2 separate regions of the Homo sapiens genome follow, and region 2 is linked to region 1. The links come from fine-mapping of genetic effects on gene expression. Tissue or cell type: whole blood. Region 1 holds a variant in brackets; the other region holds the start of a gene. All regions are shown on one strand. Distances are from middle to middle.

The links. PIP is the estimated chance that this variant, and not a neighbour inherited with it, causes the effect.
Region 2: it holds the start of TRIP10, and the variant in region 1 is fine-mapped to the expression of TRIP10 in whole blood (INTERVAL, PIP 0.91).

Annotation. Positions count from the first base shown.
Region 1 is chr19:6,797,758-6,805,757 of GRCh38, reverse strand. All of the region lies in intron 1 of VAV1 (vav guanine nucleotide exchange factor 1), which reads right to left. Among named protein-coding and RNA genes, the nearest start is that of VAV1, 29 kb to the right of the region's middle. RefSeq lists enhancers at 2,564-2,783, 3,666-3,735, 3,526-4,046. The variant G/A (reference allele first, on the strand shown) is at 3,153.
Region 2 is chr19:6,735,761-6,743,876 of GRCh38, reverse strand. It overlaps TRIP10 (thyroid hormone receptor interactor 10), which reads right to left and starts at 4,197. Exons shown (of 15, transcript NM_001288962.2): 1 at 4,092-4,197; 2 at 2,752-2,867; 3 at 2,596-2,652; 4 at 763-910; 5 at 621-683; 6 at 279-383; 7 at 41-169. The coding sequence starts at 4,115. GPR108 (G protein-coupled receptor 108) reads left to right here and starts at 6,297. Exons shown (of 18, transcript NM_001080452.2): 1 at 6,297-6,420; 2 at 7,166-7,285; 3 at 7,919-7,969. The coding sequence starts at 6,301. It overlaps MIR6791 (microRNA 6791), which reads left to right and starts at 7,099; the gene lies at 7,099-7,165. RefSeq lists enhancers at 186-1,105, 3,336-4,103, 4,553-4,682, 4,703-4,792, 4,872-5,640 and 3 more and silencers at 3,943-4,032, 4,073-4,352, 6,323-6,382, 6,483-6,652, 6,801-6,962 and 1 more.

The sequences.
Region 1 (8,000 bases):
ATATATATACACATATGTGTGAGCTGTATAATTATTTCATTATATATTACAATGTAATAATAATAGAAATAAAGTGAACAATAAATGTAATGTGGTTGATTCATCCTGAAACCATCCCCCCAACTCATGTGTGTGTGCGTGTATGTGTGTGTGTGTGTGTGTGTGTGTGTGTGTATCTGTAGAAATGAGGGTCTCACTATGTTGCCCAGGCTGGTCTCGAACCCCTGGGCTCAAGTGATCCTCCTGCCTCAGCCTCCTAAGGTCCTGGGATTACAGATGTGAGCCACCACAACTGGTCTATTTTCTTTGTTTTTGTTTTGTTTTGTTTTGTTTGAGATGGAGTCTTGCTCTGTGGCCCAGGCTAGAGTGCAGTATTATGATCTCAACTCGCTGCAACCTCCACCTCCCGGGTTCAAGCGATGCTCCTGCCTCAGCCTCCTGAGTAGCTGGGATCACAGGTGTGTGCCACCATACCCAGCTAATTTTTGTATTTTTAGTAGAGACGGGGTTTCACCATGTTGGCCAGGCTGGTCTCGAACTCCTGACTGTAGGTGATCCATCCGCCTCGGCCTCCCAAAGTGCTGGGATTACAGGCATGAACCGCTGCGCCCGGCCTTACCACCGCTTTTCATGGCAATTACCTGATCACCCAAAAGTTACTACCCCTTCCCTGGAAATTTCTGCATAAACTGCCCCTTACTCTACATGTAATTAAAAGGAGGTATGGGCCGGGGGGCGGTGGCTCACACCTGTAATCCCAGCACTTAGGGAGGCTGAGGCGGGTGGTTCACGCCTCAGGAAGGTCAGGCAATCGAGACCATCCTGGCTAACATGGTGAAAACTCATCTCTACTAAAAATACAAAAAATTAGCCGGGCATGGTGGCGGGCGCCTGTAGTCCCAGCTACTTGGGAGGCTGAAGCAGGAGAATGGCGTGAACGTGGGAGGCAGAGCTTGCAGTGAGCCAAGATTGCGCCACTGCACTCCAGCCTGTGCGACAGAGCAAGACTCCGTCTCAAAAAAAAAAAAAAAAGGAGGTATGGGAAGGGCACAGTGGTTCATGCCTGTAATCCCAGCACTTTGGGAGGCCAAGGCAGGCAGAACACCTGAGGTCGGAAATTTGAGACCAGCCTGGCCAACATGGCGAAACCTCATCTCTACTAAAAATACAAAAGTTAGTCAGGCGTGGTGGCACGCGCCTGTAATCCCAGCTACTCAGAAGGGTGAGGCAGGAGAATTGCTTGAACCTGGGAGGCAGAGGTTGCAATGAGCTGAGATTGCACTACTGCACTCCAGCCTGGGCGACAGAGCAAGACTCTGTCTCTAAATAAATAAATAAATAAATATAAATAGGACCGCCAAACTGCCCTGAGCTGCTACTCTCAGCCTGTGGGGTAGCCCTGCAAGAGCAGTCATGGAGCTGTAACACTGCCACGGCAATAAAGCTGTTTTCGTCTACCCTACCACTGGAATCACCCTTGAATTCTTTCCTTAGCCTGTGAGGCTTCTTGGGTGAAACCAAGAAGCCTCACAGGCTAAGCCCCACTTTGGGGCTTGCCTGCCGTGCGTCACATTCTCTGGATTTGGACACATGTATGATGATGGGTATCCACTATTATAGTGTCATAGAGAGTATTTTCACTGCCGTGGAAAGCTTCCATGCTCTGCCTATCCATACCCCCTTTCCACTAACCTCTGACAACTACTGATCTTTTTACTGCTTCTACAGTTTTGCCTTTTCTGAAACATCACATAGCTGGTATCATATAGTATGTAGCCTTTTGGGACTGGCTTCTTTCACTTAGTAATATGCATTTGGGGTTCCTGCGTGTCTCTTCATGGCTTGAGAGCTCATCTCATCTCTCTTCAGTGCTGAATAATATTCCATTGTCTGCGCTGGGAGCAGTGGCTCACACCTGTAATCTCAGCACTTTGGGAGGCCGACGTGGCTGGATCACCTGAGGTCAGGAGTTTGAGGCCAGCCTGGCCAACATGGTGAAATCCCATCTCTACTAAAAATACAAAAATTAGCCAGGTGTGGTGGCAGGTGCCAGTAAACCCAGCTACTCAGGAGGCTGAGGCAGGAGAACAGCTTGGACCTGGGAAGCAGAGGTTGCAGTGAGCCGAGACCACACCATTGCACTCTAGCCTGGACAACAAGGGCAAAAGTCCATCTCTAATAATAATAATAATATTCCATTGTCTGGATGCACCACAGCTTATTTATCCATACGAGGAAGTAGGTGGAACTTGACTCTGGAGGTGGGGCTCAGACAACGGACCAAATTGAGGACTAGCTAAAACAGGGCTGGAGCAGAAGCACCTTTCCATAAGACATGCCCACCAGTGTGCCATGGCAGTTTGCCATTGTGATGGTAACACCAGCAGCTACTACTCCTTTCCCAAGGCAATGACCCGACAACCCAGAAGTTACCACCCTTTTCCTAGAAATTTGCATAATCTGCCCTTTAATTTGCATATAATTAAAGTGGGTACAAAGATGACTGCAACCCTGATTACTCCGGGCTCACAGCCTGTGGGGTAGCCCTGCTCTGCGAGGAGCAGGACTTCTGCAACTGCCGCTATGCACTTTCACTTCAGTAAAAGCTACTGTCTAACACCTCCAGCTCGCCCTGGAATTCTTTCCTGGGCAAAACAAAGAACCGTCCCAGGCTGAGCCCCAATTTAGGGCTTGCCTTGCCCTACATCGCATTCATCTACCGAAGGACAATTTGTTGCCTCCCAGTTTCAGCAATCATGAATAAAGCCGCTACAAAGACTTGAGTGTAAGTTTTTGTGTGGACATAAATGTTCAACTCCTTTGGGTAAATAGAGGACCTCAATACCTAGTACCATGTCTGACACATAGTAGATGCTCAATAAAATCTGTCGAATGAATAAATCTCCCTTTGACAGAGGAAACAACTGAGGCTCAGAGAGGGGATACTGCCCATCCCGGACCACACAGATAGGAATGGAGAACCAGATACCAGCACTGGATCCCAAAGTCTGTGCCTCTAACCTCTGTACAACACTGCCTCTTTGAACCACACTAAGCTGCTCCTGGTGCCTCTTAGAGAGTGGCATAATGAGGGCGCTCATGGGCAGGCAGATCACCAGAGACAATAGAGCAGATGGCTGTGTCTGTGGCTC[G/A]AGGGAGGAAGTTCCCTCCTGACCTCAGGGAGATCAGCTGAACCCGGAGACAGCTTCCTTCCAGTCATGTGATGCCTCAAAGAGGGGAAAGGGGGCATGATTCATCCCCTCTCCGGGCTGCGGTGGGGCCAGCTAAAGAAAGGGGCTCCATCAGACAGCAGCAGTGACTGCAGTTAGACCACCAGAAAGGACTTCCTGGTCGCCTGAAGAGTGTGAGAAAGTGGCAAAGGACAGGAGGTCCTTTATTTTTTTTAATTTTATTATTATTATACTTTAAATTTTAGGGTACATGTGCACAACGTGCAGGTTTGTTACATATGTATACATGTGTCATGTTGGTGTGCTGCACCCATTAACTCCTCATTTAGCATTAGGTATATCTCCTAATGTTATCCCTCCCCACTTCCCCGACCCCACAACAGTCCCCTGTGTGTGATGTTCCCCTTCCTGTGCCCATGTGTTCTCATTGTTCAATTCCCACCTATAAGTGAGAACATGCGGTGTTTGGTTTTTTGTCCTTGCTATAGTTTGCTGAGAATGATGGTCCTTTAAACAAACGTAGGAGAGGCATTATGAGGACGGTTCCTCCCTGCTGGGGGCAACCCCCCTCAGTGCCCCTCTTCCTTCCTCCAGGAAGAGGCGGGCACCCACTGTGCTGGCATCGTGCCCATATGCAAATCAGCACCCAGGCGCACTGCGGTGAACCCTGAGGTTCATTCTTCCCCATTTGCCAGCCAGCCTCCCATCAACAAAACCCCTGCCCAAGATGAAGAAAGAGCCAGAAAGGTCGGCTGGCTTTCCACGCTCCTTCGGGGAAGCAGTGTGCAGGGACAGAGGCCTCTGGGGTCTGGGAGAAGGGGACCCAGAGCCAAGCACGACGGCAGCAATCAACTCCCCACCCCCACCCCAGCACCAGGGAGCCGGCCGGAAACCGGAAATGCCTGTTACCAGGGCTTGGTTGGGGAGATAGAAAAAAGGGTGGGTGGAGGGGCCCTTTGCGTTCAACCCATCAGCCCCTTCATCAGGCAACCTCAAGCTCCCGAGGGTTCCCAGAGAGGGCGGGTGTGCTGTGCACCCTTTCAAAGCTCCGAAGCAGGGGTGCAGAGTGTGCACGCCTCATCCTAGCCCTCAAACCCTTCTGTGAGGAAGCCCGTCTCTCTTCTGCCCCATCCCCTACCACCCCAGCACACACTCCACTTTTCAGCACCGGTGGGAGGGTCAGGCAGATCTGGTTCGACTCCCAGACCAGCCCGGCAAGTTGAGGGAGCTTGGATGGGATCATTTTGCTTTCCGTTGATTCAATTGACTCATCTGTACGTCGGGAATGAAAATACTTGACCCAATGTTTGCGGTAGAGCCTGGTGTGAAACCCAGCACCCCAGACCCGGTCATGCATTAATTCAGCAAGCATGTGTGGAATGCCTACTGTATGCCAAGCACCAGAACCTAATGGTGATCAAGACAAACAGAGCTCTGCCCTTACAGGGCTTATGTAATCCAGCCAGGAGACAAACACTAAGCAGTCAGCAAGGTGAATAATTGATGATGAGGGTGGTGAGAGGGTGTGCCGGGAAGCACAGAGAGCTATGGGACCTGGTTAAATGCAGGAGGCACCTGGTAAGGCTTTGGGGTGGTACAGGAGAGAATGGTGCCATGCAGGCGACAAAGAGATGGTGAGCGGCTGGGTGCGGTGGCTCACGCCTGTAATCCCAGCACTTTGGGAGGCTGAGGCGGGCGGATCACTTGAGGTCAGGGGTTCAAGACCAGCCTGGGCAACATGGTGAAACCCCGACTGCACACACACACACACACAAAAATTTGCCAGGCGTGGTGACAGGCGCCTGTAATCCCAGCTACTCTGGAGGCTGAGGCAGGAGAATCGCTTGAACCCAGGAGGCGGAGGTGGCAGTGAGCCGAGATCACGCCACTGCACAGCCTGGGCAACAGACCGAGGATGTCTCAAAAAAACAAAAAACAAAACAAAACAAAAAAAAGAAGCTGGGTGTGGTGGCTCATGCCTGTAATCCCAGCACTTTGGGACGCTGAGGTGGGTTGATCACTTGAGGTCAGGAGTTTGAGACGCGCCTGGCCAACATATAGTGAAACCTGTCTCTGCTAAAAATACAAAATTAGCTGGGTGTGGTGGAACACGCCTGTAGTCCCAGCTACTTGGAAAGCAGAGGAAGGAGAATCGCTTGAACCCAGGAGGCAGAGGTTGCAGTGAGCCGAGATCATGCCACTGCACTCCAGCCTGGGCAACAGAGCAAGACCCCATCTCAAAAAAAAAAAATGAGACAGATAGTGAAGCAAAGAAGAGAAGCATGCTGAGCAGCTGGCAGGAACATCACATGGCAGATCCACTTTGGAAAAGTTGGTACGTTTTCCTTGTTATTACTATTATTTTTTTACCTTGCAATTCCAGCACAAAGGAAGAAAAGTTGGTACATTTTCTTCTTATTAAAAAAAAAAATTAAGAAACAGAGCCTCACTATGTCGGTCAGGTTGGTCTCAAACTCCTAGGCTCCAGCAATCCTCCCGCCTCAGTTCCCCAAAGTGCTGGAATGACAGGCATGAGCCGCCGTGACTGGCCTGGTAAGTTTTCTTAAAACATTAAGCATGCACCTATCATACGATATATTCCATTACCAGGCATTTACTCAAGAGAAATGAAAGCACATGTCCATACAAAGACTTGTACAGAATGTTCATAGCAGCTTGATTCTGTTTTCTTTTCTTTCCTTTTTTTTTTTTTTTTTTTTTTGAGACAGTCTCAGTCTGTCACCCAGGCTGGAGTGCAGCCTGGCCCAATCACAGCTCACTGCAGTCTCAAATTCCTGGGCTCAAGCAATCCTCCTGCCTCAGCCTTCCAAAGAGTTAGGACTACAGGCATGTGCCACCATATCCAGCTAGCAACTTGATTCATGATAGCCAAAAGTGCCATCAGTAATTCAAACCTCAACCAAGGGGAACATCACACACTGGGGCCTGTCGGGGGCTGGGGGTTAGGAGAGGGATAGCATTCGGAGAAATACCTAATGTAGATGATGGGTTGATGGATGCAGCAAACCACCATGGCACGTGTATACCTATGTAACAAACCTGCACGTTCTGCACATGTATCCCAGAACTTAAAGTATAGGCCGGGCATGGTGGCTCACGCCTGTAATCCCAGCACTTTGGGAGGCCGAGGTGGGCAGATTATGAGGTCAGGAGTTCGAGACCAGCCTGGTCAACATGGTGAAACCCTGTCTTTACTAAAAATACAAAAAAATTAGCCAGGCGTGGTGGCGCACACCTGTAGTCCCAGCTGTTCGAGAGGCTGAGGCAGAAGAATCGCTTGAACCTGGGAGGCGGAGGTTGCAGTGAGCCGAGATTGCGCCACTGCACTCCAGCCTGGGCGACAGAGCGAGACTCCATCTCAAAAAAACAAAGCGAAACAAACAAAAAAACCTCCATCAAGGGATGAATGGATAAACAAACTGGGGTGCATCCGTACAACAGAATGGTACACTGATACATACAACAACATGGATGAACCAGGACATCATGCTCAGGGAAAGCAGCCAGTCACAGAAGACCACAGATGGTACCATTCCACTTACATAAAACTCCAGGAAATACAAACTAATCGACAGTGACTAACAGCAAATCAGGAGGTACGAGGGAATGAGAGGTGGGAGGAGGGGGAGGCAGGGAGGGGTGGGATGGAGGAAACTTTGAGGGGCAATGGATATGATCCATTGATTTCAAGGCTGGGTTCATAGTTGCACACATATGTCAAAATTTATCAAATCAGGCCAGGTTCAGTGGCACACACCTGTAATCCCAGCTACTCAGGAGGCTAGGGTAGGAGGATCGCTTGAGTCCAGGAGTTCAAGGCCAGTCTGGGCAACATAGGGAGACCCTGATTCTTTCTTTTTTCCCCCTTCTTTTGGGTGGGGGGGGGAAGGGGAGAAACAGGGTCTCACTCTGTCACCCAGACTGGAGTGCAGTGGTGCAATCCTGGCTCACTGCAGCCTCGACTTCCTGGGTTCAAATGATCCTCCCATCTCAGCCTCCCAAGTAGCTGGGACTACAGGCACATGCCACTATGACCAGCTAATTATTTTATTTATTTATTTATTTATTTATTATTTATTAGAGATGAGGCTGGTCTCACCATGTTGCCCAGGCTGATCTCGATCTCCTAAACTCAAGCAATCCTCCCACACCAGCTTCCCAAAGGGGCGAGATTACAGGCTTCAGGCACCATGCCCTGCCAAGACCGTTTCTGAAAACAAATCTAGAAATTAAAGAAAAAATTGTTTACCAAATCATATATTTTTTTTTGAGACAGAGTCTCACTCTGTTGCCCAGGCTGGAGTGCAATGATGCGATCTCCGCTCACTGCAACCTCCGCCTCCCAGGTTCAAGCGATTCTCCTGCCTCCACCTCCTGAGTAGCTGGGATTATAGGTGCGTGCCACCATGCCTGGCTAATTTCTGTATTTTTAGTACAGACAGGGTCTCACCATGTTGGCTAGGCTGGTCTTGAACTCCTGGCCTCAAGTGATTTGCCCACCTCGGCCTCCCAAAGTGCTGGGATTACAGCGTGAGCCACCGCGCCCCACCAATGTATTTTAAATATGTAATTTACTGTATGTCAATATAGCTGGTTTTTTTTTTTTTAAGTCAGCAGGATACTGGCTGCCCTGCTGTGTCTTTCCCCTAAAACTAGGTGCATAGGATGACTATCAGCTTAGGGAGTGGGTGGGGGAGGATGGGGTGGAAAATAAGGAAATAATGTAAACCATCATTGGTCAATAATGCAAAATACAGTCTTAGTCATATTTTTGCTCCTACTCTTTTT
Region 2 (8,116 bases), 62 kb after region 1:
GGCTTTCGGGAAGGTAGGTCTGAGAACTGGGAGCACTCACATCGAATATCTGGGGCATCTGTGAAAAATAGAAGTGGGCTTGGTCTCGGTTGAAGCGCTGCAGTTGAGCCGCATATTCGTTTTTGCTTTCTTCGGCCATGTGACTCCGAAGGTGGGCTTGCTGCTTGGCCTGAAGAATGCAGAGGTGGAAGGTACTGCCAGGTTCCGATCACGTCCCACTCGGACTCCCCAAGCTTGTCCCAGACCCCGCACCCCCCCCCCGCCCCCGCCACACACACCTTCTCCACATCAGCCTTGGTGGCGTTGATATCCTGGTCTAGCCGTTCAGCAGTCTGGGCTGCCTTCTCTGCCTCCCGGCAGTCCCGCTCAAATTTACGCTTACTCTGTGTAGGGGACAGAACCGGAGTGAGGGAGCCACCATCCCAAAGACAGCAGGGTGGGAAACCAAGGTTTCAGGGATTATTGGGATGTCATCCAGTAAGTAGGGGTCAAGGGAGTACTGGAAGCCTATGGGGGAGGGAAGGTCCAGGTCTGACAAAGAGGGCAGCTCCCTGACTCCGGATCCGCAACCCTGCCCCCATGCCTCCGGGCCACAGTCACTGCTACCTCTGCAAACTCACATTCTCCAGCTGTTTAAAGCCATTTTCCAGCTGCTGCTGGGCCCGCCGCCCTTCTTGGAAGTGCTACAGAAAGAAGAGTGATAAGGCTCGCCAGGGTTCCAGCAGAAGCCCTTTGTAAAACCTGAATCGGGGGGCTCCTCACCATCTTCCTCTCCTGTTTCATCTCTTGTGAGTACTTGGTCAGCTCAAGACATACACGGACACTGAGGTTCTCAGCCACCAGCTCCCGCTGGCCTGCAAAGTCATTCACCTCCTGGAGAATCTGTACGAAGGACTGTTGCTGGCTGAATCTGGGGTTGGATGAGAATCGGGGAACAGGGAGTCAGGCCCCTCCTCCCGAGCAGGCTGATGCCCCAGGACGCACCTCCAGGTGGAAAAGGGTTAAGCCCCAAGAATGTAATCCCTGAAGCGATGACAAATTCTGGTCCATATTCCTTAACCCCAACCCTTGAGTAGATTTTTTTTTTTTTTTTTTTTGAGACAGGGTCTTGCTGTCACCCAGGCTGCAGTGCAGCGGCATGATTGCGTCTCACTGCAGCCTCAAACTCCTGGGCTCAAGTGATCCTCCCACCTCAGGCTCCCAAATAGCTGGGACCACAGGCACACGCCACCACACCTGGCTAATTTTTTTTTTCCAGATGAGGTCTCAAACTCCAATCCCCCCGAACTCCGCATCTTCCCGCCTCACCCTCCCAAAGTGCTGGGAGTACAGGTGTGAGCCACCGCACTGGACCTCGAATGTATATTGGAACACAGAATTTTCCAGTTTTTAAAGATGGTGTACAAAGCTTATACCATCTTTTCTGCATCATCTTAGTGGGGTTGGGGACATCATTTTGTAATCAAACACCGTATCTATTTGTTTTGGAGACAGAGTCTCACTCTGTCGCCCAGGCTGGAGTGCAGTGGTGCGATCTTGGCTCACTGCAACCTCCGCCTCCCGGGTTCAAGCGATTCTCATGCCTCAGCCTCCTGAGTAGCTGGGATTACAGGCGCGCACCACAACGCCTGGCTAATTTTTGTATTTTTAGAAGAGACAAGGTTTCACCATGTTGACCAGGCTGCTCTCGAACTCCTGACCTCAAGTGATCCACCTGCGCACCCTCCCAATGTGTGGGATTACAGGTGTGAGCCACTGTGCCCAACCCTATTTTTTTTTTTAATTTTACAATGAGAGGTGTTAACATTCACACTAAGTGGGATAAAAGTCAAAACTACAATTACCAGCCTGGCTAACATGGTGAAACCCTGTCTCTACTAAAAATATAAAAATTAGCTGGGCATGGTGGCAGGTGACTGTAATCCCAGCTACTAGGGAGGCTGAGGCAGGAGAATCGCTTGAACCTGGGAGGCGGAAGTTGCAGTGAGCTGAGATGGCGCCACTGCACTCCAGCCTGGGGGACAGAGTGAAACTCTGTCAAAAACAAAACAAAACAACTACAATTAACAAAAAGTTCAGGTCAGAGATTGCTGCCAAACAAGTGACCAAAACAACTTGATTTCCAGGGCTTTTTTGGATTTTGGAATTGGGGACTCAATTCCAAGTCAAATGCTCCTTACGGCGTTTGATATGGACTGCACACTGTTTAAACACATTCACTCAGCTCGTGTTCATGAAAGCCCTACAAAGCTGGAGGAATCGTCATCATTCCATTTCACAGATGAGGAAAACAGAGGCGCAAAACTTTAAGTCATCTGCCCAAAGTTACTGGTTTTGTAACTGCTGGGGCCTCTGTATTTAACAGTTAAGGAAAATAGTGGCAGAAAACCTGAGTCACAAGCCCAAGTCAATTTCTCTACATAGTAGTGGACTCAGGATTCCAAGCCAGATAATCCCGCATCTTGCATCCATGCTCTCACCTCTAGAAGGGGAAGTGAGAGGAGCGGTGGGGTGTCCCAGCTGAGGGAGGGGAAGTGAGACCCAAGCACCGCCTTTCCCCACAAATCTAGCCCTGCAGCCCCTCTCCAACCTTACTTGGACTCAGGATCATCCTTGGCAGGTCTCTTGGGCAGATATTTTTTCACCAGGCTCCTAAGGGGAGACAGAGGTAGGAGGGCTGAGCCCGCAGCCCTCCCACCGCTCCCCGTCGCCCCAGGCGCGTCCTCCGTAGCGTCCACCCCAGGGTCTCACCGCAGTTGTTTGGCGTAAGCCTGTTCCACTTCGGTGCGTTCTTTCACGAACTTTACATATCTGTCCAACAGGTCCAGCCCCCACTGCGTGTGGCGCTCGAGCACCTCGAACTGATCCTGACATGGGACATGGTGGGGGAGGAGGGGAGAGGGGCCGGGGTCACGATTTTGGGACCCCACAGCCCGCCGACCAGACTCCCAGGGAGGGCCAAGGCTCTGCGCTCCTAGAAGGAGTGGCTTCCCGGCGCCGCCCCGGCGTGGCGCGGGGGGAGGCAGGAAACTGGCGGGAACCCCCTCCCCTTCCCGGGAAGGGCCGGAGAACAGCGCCCAGGCCCCAGCCACCCCGGCCGGGAGATGGAGGTCTCCGACATAGGACCGCCAAGAGGGGCGTGGAAGGGGACAGGGCCACTCCCCCAGCTCGGGCTCCCCTAATCCCCCCGGATTCCGGAAAATCCGGCCGGCCCGGCGTGAGTCAAGGCCAGAGGGGCAGGGTTCCTGGCAGACTGGGGGCCCCTGAGTGGCCAGGGGGCAGGCACCAGGTTCCCTGAATCTCCCTGCTTCCAGGGATCCCCCGATGGGTGACTCAATTTACCCCACTGACCCCACTACACATCCAAAAGAAATCGCAGAATTGGAGGAGGGGGTGGCAGTCTGGTTACCCCCGCTGCACTAAGAACTCAGGGATTCCACCGCCCCCAGCAAGGGGAGGGGTCAGAGGTCCGGCTAGGATAGGGGGAAATTTCTGGGGCTTCCAGGGCTGAGGTTATAGGCGACCAGGGGGCGGTCCCGCCCTGGGCCTGGGGTGAGCAGGGGGAAGCCAGGGAGGGGGATCAGGCCGAGCTTAGCATCCCCCTTCCCCTCCATGAGCGTCCCCAGCCCCTAGGTGTTGATTAAAGGCGAGGGAAAGGGCGGTCAGGACTTCTAGGTCCCACGTGGGTGGGGATGAGGGTGACCAGAGGGTCCCCTCCCCCCTCCTAGCCGGACAGGCGGACGACGGGCAGGGACCCAGGGGCCGTAAGATAAGCCGCCTGCCCGGCCAGGGCGCCCAAAATAGGTGACCTCTCTCAGCCGCCCCGGCCTGGCCCCAGGATTCCTTCTGCCCGCCTCATTCGCAACCCTGTGCCTCAGTTTCCCCACTCCGGTCCGGCAAAGTCGCCCTTCGCCCCTGAGCGTGCTGAGACTCCCAGATAAACTTCGAGAGAGAGCGGAGGGTGGAGGGCGGGGACCCAGGGGTCGGTGGAAGGGAAAGGCGCGGAGCCCCCTCTAAGATACATTGGGGACAAAAGGGGGGTGCCTGGACCCCAGCAAAGGGGAACTTAGAGGCGGGCCGATTGGACTTACCCACAGCTCAGTGCCCCAATCCATGCTGCTCCCGCCGCCGCCGCCGCAGCCACCACCGCACCCGGTCCCCGCCGCCCGCCGCCCGCCGCCCTCCCCGGGGAGACTCAGCCGAGGGCGGTGCGCCTGGCCCCGCCCCGCCCCGCCCGGCCCCGCCCACCCCAGACTCTTCCCCGCCCCCCTGCACGCTCTGCCACGCCCCCACCCGCGCGGAGCCCAAGCACTGCGATTCGGGGGCGGGGCCCAACGGACGCTCCGCCCCCTTTTAAAGCAACGTTGCCACTCGACGCCGCTGGACCGACCCCTTAAAGAACCCCCACCCATTTTTTCCAAATCCCCGGGGTCCCTCTCGTCCTCTCATCTTCCTTCCCCGCTCCAAACGGTTCTTCCCATCTCCTTTTCCCCTTTCCCCGCAATTATTCCTTAAAGGGCCAAGACACTAAAACCCCAAACTCAAGAAGTCCTTCCTCAACCCCATTGCAGGGGCAACCTGAGGTCACCCCGTTCTTGCGAGCCGGCCCGGCTCCAGGCGTCTAGGTTCGTCCCACTAATGGTCTGGTCCCTCCGGCCACAGGGCGGATGAGAGGGTTTCGATCCAACCCAGGACGCGCCTTCGCCAAGGCCAGGTCCATTAACTCCCGCACCGCATCCTGCCTTCCCTCCCCCAGAGTCTCCGCTGGGAAACTGAAGACAGGCCGTCCTTGGGGCGCCAGGCCCAGGCCTTTCCCCAGCTGCCTTCCAGTTCGCGCCTGCATCTGCCCATTTTCCAGTTTAACCTGGTTTCATTCTCAGTACTGCCCCTGAGATTCCGACTCCGCCCCTCCCCCAGACATCTGGGCCATCTGGGCCCTGGAGAAGGGAAGTCTGTCACCTCTCCCATAAAAGTCTGTTCACACCTTGTAAATCCCTTTGAGGTGCTGGAATGAAAGAGGAGAGGAGGCACTGGGGATTCCCACTCCCATTCTCTCCGGGCTTTGGCGCTTTCTCTGCAGCCTCAGACAAGGCTGGGCGTCTTGCAGGGGGGCCCTTGGGTATACGTTCCCCTTACACAGAGCACCCAGGCTCCCAGAACAGAGAGATACAGCTGAGCCCAGGAGGAGAGCCTTGGGAGCCCACACTGGGACTGATGTCTCTGCTGAGACCTGGCCCCACCTGCTGGTGGCTTCTGAGCTAGAAAATGTCTGATTGCAGTTGGGCAATTGAACCCAGTGAGTTCTGTGGCTAGTCTCAAATGGGGGCTCAGCCTAGCAAAGTTCTGAGTTCACCTCTGCTCAGAGACTCAAACTGGAATTGGGGTTCAGTCCAGGTCAGCACCACCGTGGGGATAGGGGATAGAGGCCAGAGGCTTAACCAGAAGGATTAGCAACCCGGTAAGGGGTCAGGTCCAATCTGGAGTCAGGGCTAGTCCAGATCGGTGGCCTAAACCAGAGATTAAGCCTCAGTGTGTGGTGTGGGGGACGAGGGGGTGTCAGAGTTTCAGGCTGAAGTTAGGACTCAACTTGCAGAGAGGGAGTTCACCTGGGGTCAGAGTTCAGCCCGGAGTCCGGTCTAGCCTGGAATCTGGGGGTGGGGCTCCAATTGCCTCACTCTGGAATAAAAGGCTTAGCCTAAGGCTGGGGTCTCAGCCTGGGGTCATAGGTCATCCTAGGGTCAAACTTTAACCTGAGGCCAGCTTTAGGCCTCTCTGTGGACCAGGAAGATTAGGAAAACAGGTCAGGCCTGAACAGATGCGTGTGTTTACCAAAAGCCTCAGCTCTGGCTGGGAGCCACATCCCTGGCTCAAGAAGAGGAAGTCCGTCCTTGGGGATACTGGGAAAGGTAGTTTATTTAATGCTTTGTGGCCCTTGTCTGCTCCCGCTGCATTCTGGGTAATGTAGTCCCGGACAGTTAAGAGTGGGTGGAGAAATTCCGCTTTAAGGGCCGGATATCAGATCCATGACAATTGGTTAGATAAACTGCTCATTAAATCACATCCGGACAATCTTTATAGCGATTGGTGAGAGTGAGCTGGGGGTTAAGCGTTATCGGCTCTCCCATTCGGAACCGGTGCTGTCCGTCGGTGACGCAAGCAGGCGGGCTTGCGGAGAGGCAATTGCTGATTGGTTGGCGGACTGGAAACTCCGAAAGGCCGGGCCCCGCCGTGCGGCGATTGGCTCATCGGTGGGCGGGCTTGGGCGCCAGAGGCGGAGTCGGGGAGGAGGTGGCTCCAGAGATGGCAGTGAGCGAGAGGAGGGGGCTCGGCCGCGGGAGCCCCGCGGAGTGGGGGCAGCGGCTACTTCTGGTGCTGCTGCTGGGTGGCTGCTCCGGGCGCATCCACCAGCTGGCGCTGACGGTGAGGCCCGCCGCGCGAGGGTCTGGGGTCGGTGGCGCAACTTTGTCTCGGAGAAGCCCCCTGGCTTGGAGTGGTCTCGTCCGCCCTCCCCCGTCCCCGAGGCGGTGGAGTGGTCCGGCGCCCCCCGTTTCCGGGCCCGGAGTGGTCTCGTCCCGGGATCCCCTTCGGTCCTCCGGATGGAGTTGCCGGGTCCGCCTCGCTGGGGTCGGCCCCCTCCCTTCGGGGGCGAGGCTCCATCTCTTGGGGACTACACCCCCCTTCCCCCCAACTGGGTCTTAGTCCTTTAAATTCTTGGAATCACTTTTGGGGCGCTAGAGACCCTGGAGCCGCACAGCGGGGTCCTGGGGGGCTATAGAGTGGGGTCCTCTGGGCACTTAATGGGATTTGGGGGGTTCTGTTGAAATATTGCTGGGAGCTCAACTGGAATGTAAAAGTTCTTCGGGAAGGTGAAGGTCAGGCACGCCGAGGTGAATAACTGTTCTCCGGGCGGTGCTCACCCCAGTGGGGAGACTTCCAGGTGCCGCAGGATCTCTGTTCCTGGGTTCTCAGAACAGAGGTCGGAGAATGCAGGACCACCCTTCCCCTGCAGGGAGGAAGTCCCTCTCAACTTTCTCTTGTCATCCTCTGGGCCTGTCCTAAATAGAGGGGTACCAGGAGGCCCTTCTGGAGGTCCTCGTGCCAGACCCCTGGGGCTGGGCAGGCGGAAAGAGGTCTGAACTGCCTCTGCCTCCTTGGTCTCCGGCAGGGGGAGAAGCGAGCGGACATCCAGCTGAACAGCTTCGGTTTCTACACCAATGGCTCTCTGGAGGTGGAGTTGAGCGTCCTGCGGCTGGGCCTCCGGGAGGCAGAAGAGAAGTCCCTGCTGGTGAGGGACCTTGAGGAGTTTGCTGGAGGAGAGCACGGTGCAATCCCCCGGTTCTGGGTTCCCAGCTCTGCCGCTACCCATGTGATCTTGTACAAGTCCCGTCATCTCTCTGAGCCTGTTTCGTCATCTGTACCTGGGAGTAATGATGTCTTACACAGGATGTGCTAGGCACTTTTCTTAAGACTTGGGGGACAGGCGGGGCGCGGTGGCTCAGGCTTTGTAGTCCTAGCACTTTGGGAGGCCAAGGTGGGAGGATTGCCTGAGGCCAGGAGTTCAAGACCAGCCTGGGCAACATAGTGAGAACCCCGTCTCTACAAAAAGTTTTTAAAATTAGCCGGGCGTGGTGAGGTGTGCCTGTAGTCCCAGCCAGTCGGGAGGCCGAGGTGAGAGGATCGTTTGAACCTGGGAGTTCGAGGCTGTAGTGAGCTATGATCCTGCCACTGTATTCCAGCTTGAGAAACAGAATGAGGTCCACCCACCACCCCAACTCTAAAAAAGAAAAAGAGCGTGTGGGATCTAGCACATGTTAGGTGTTCAGTAAATGTGAGGTTAGGTTTCTATTGCTACTGAAAGGGATAGCTGGGAGGTCTCTACTGTCCCTCACACCCTCCCCTTTTTTTTTCCACCCACCAGGTGGGGTTCAGTCTCAGCCGGGTTCGGTCTGGCAGAGTTCGCTCCTATTCAGTGAGTGGAGGGCATGGGGAAGACGGGAGAAGGGGCTGGAGGGAGGGGGTAGGGTCTGTCCTCTGCATCTGTAACCCAAGGGCCCCTGTTCTTTGTCAGAGGCAGGAGCAGGAAGATCCCGTGGGTGGACAGGGAGGGAGACAGGGT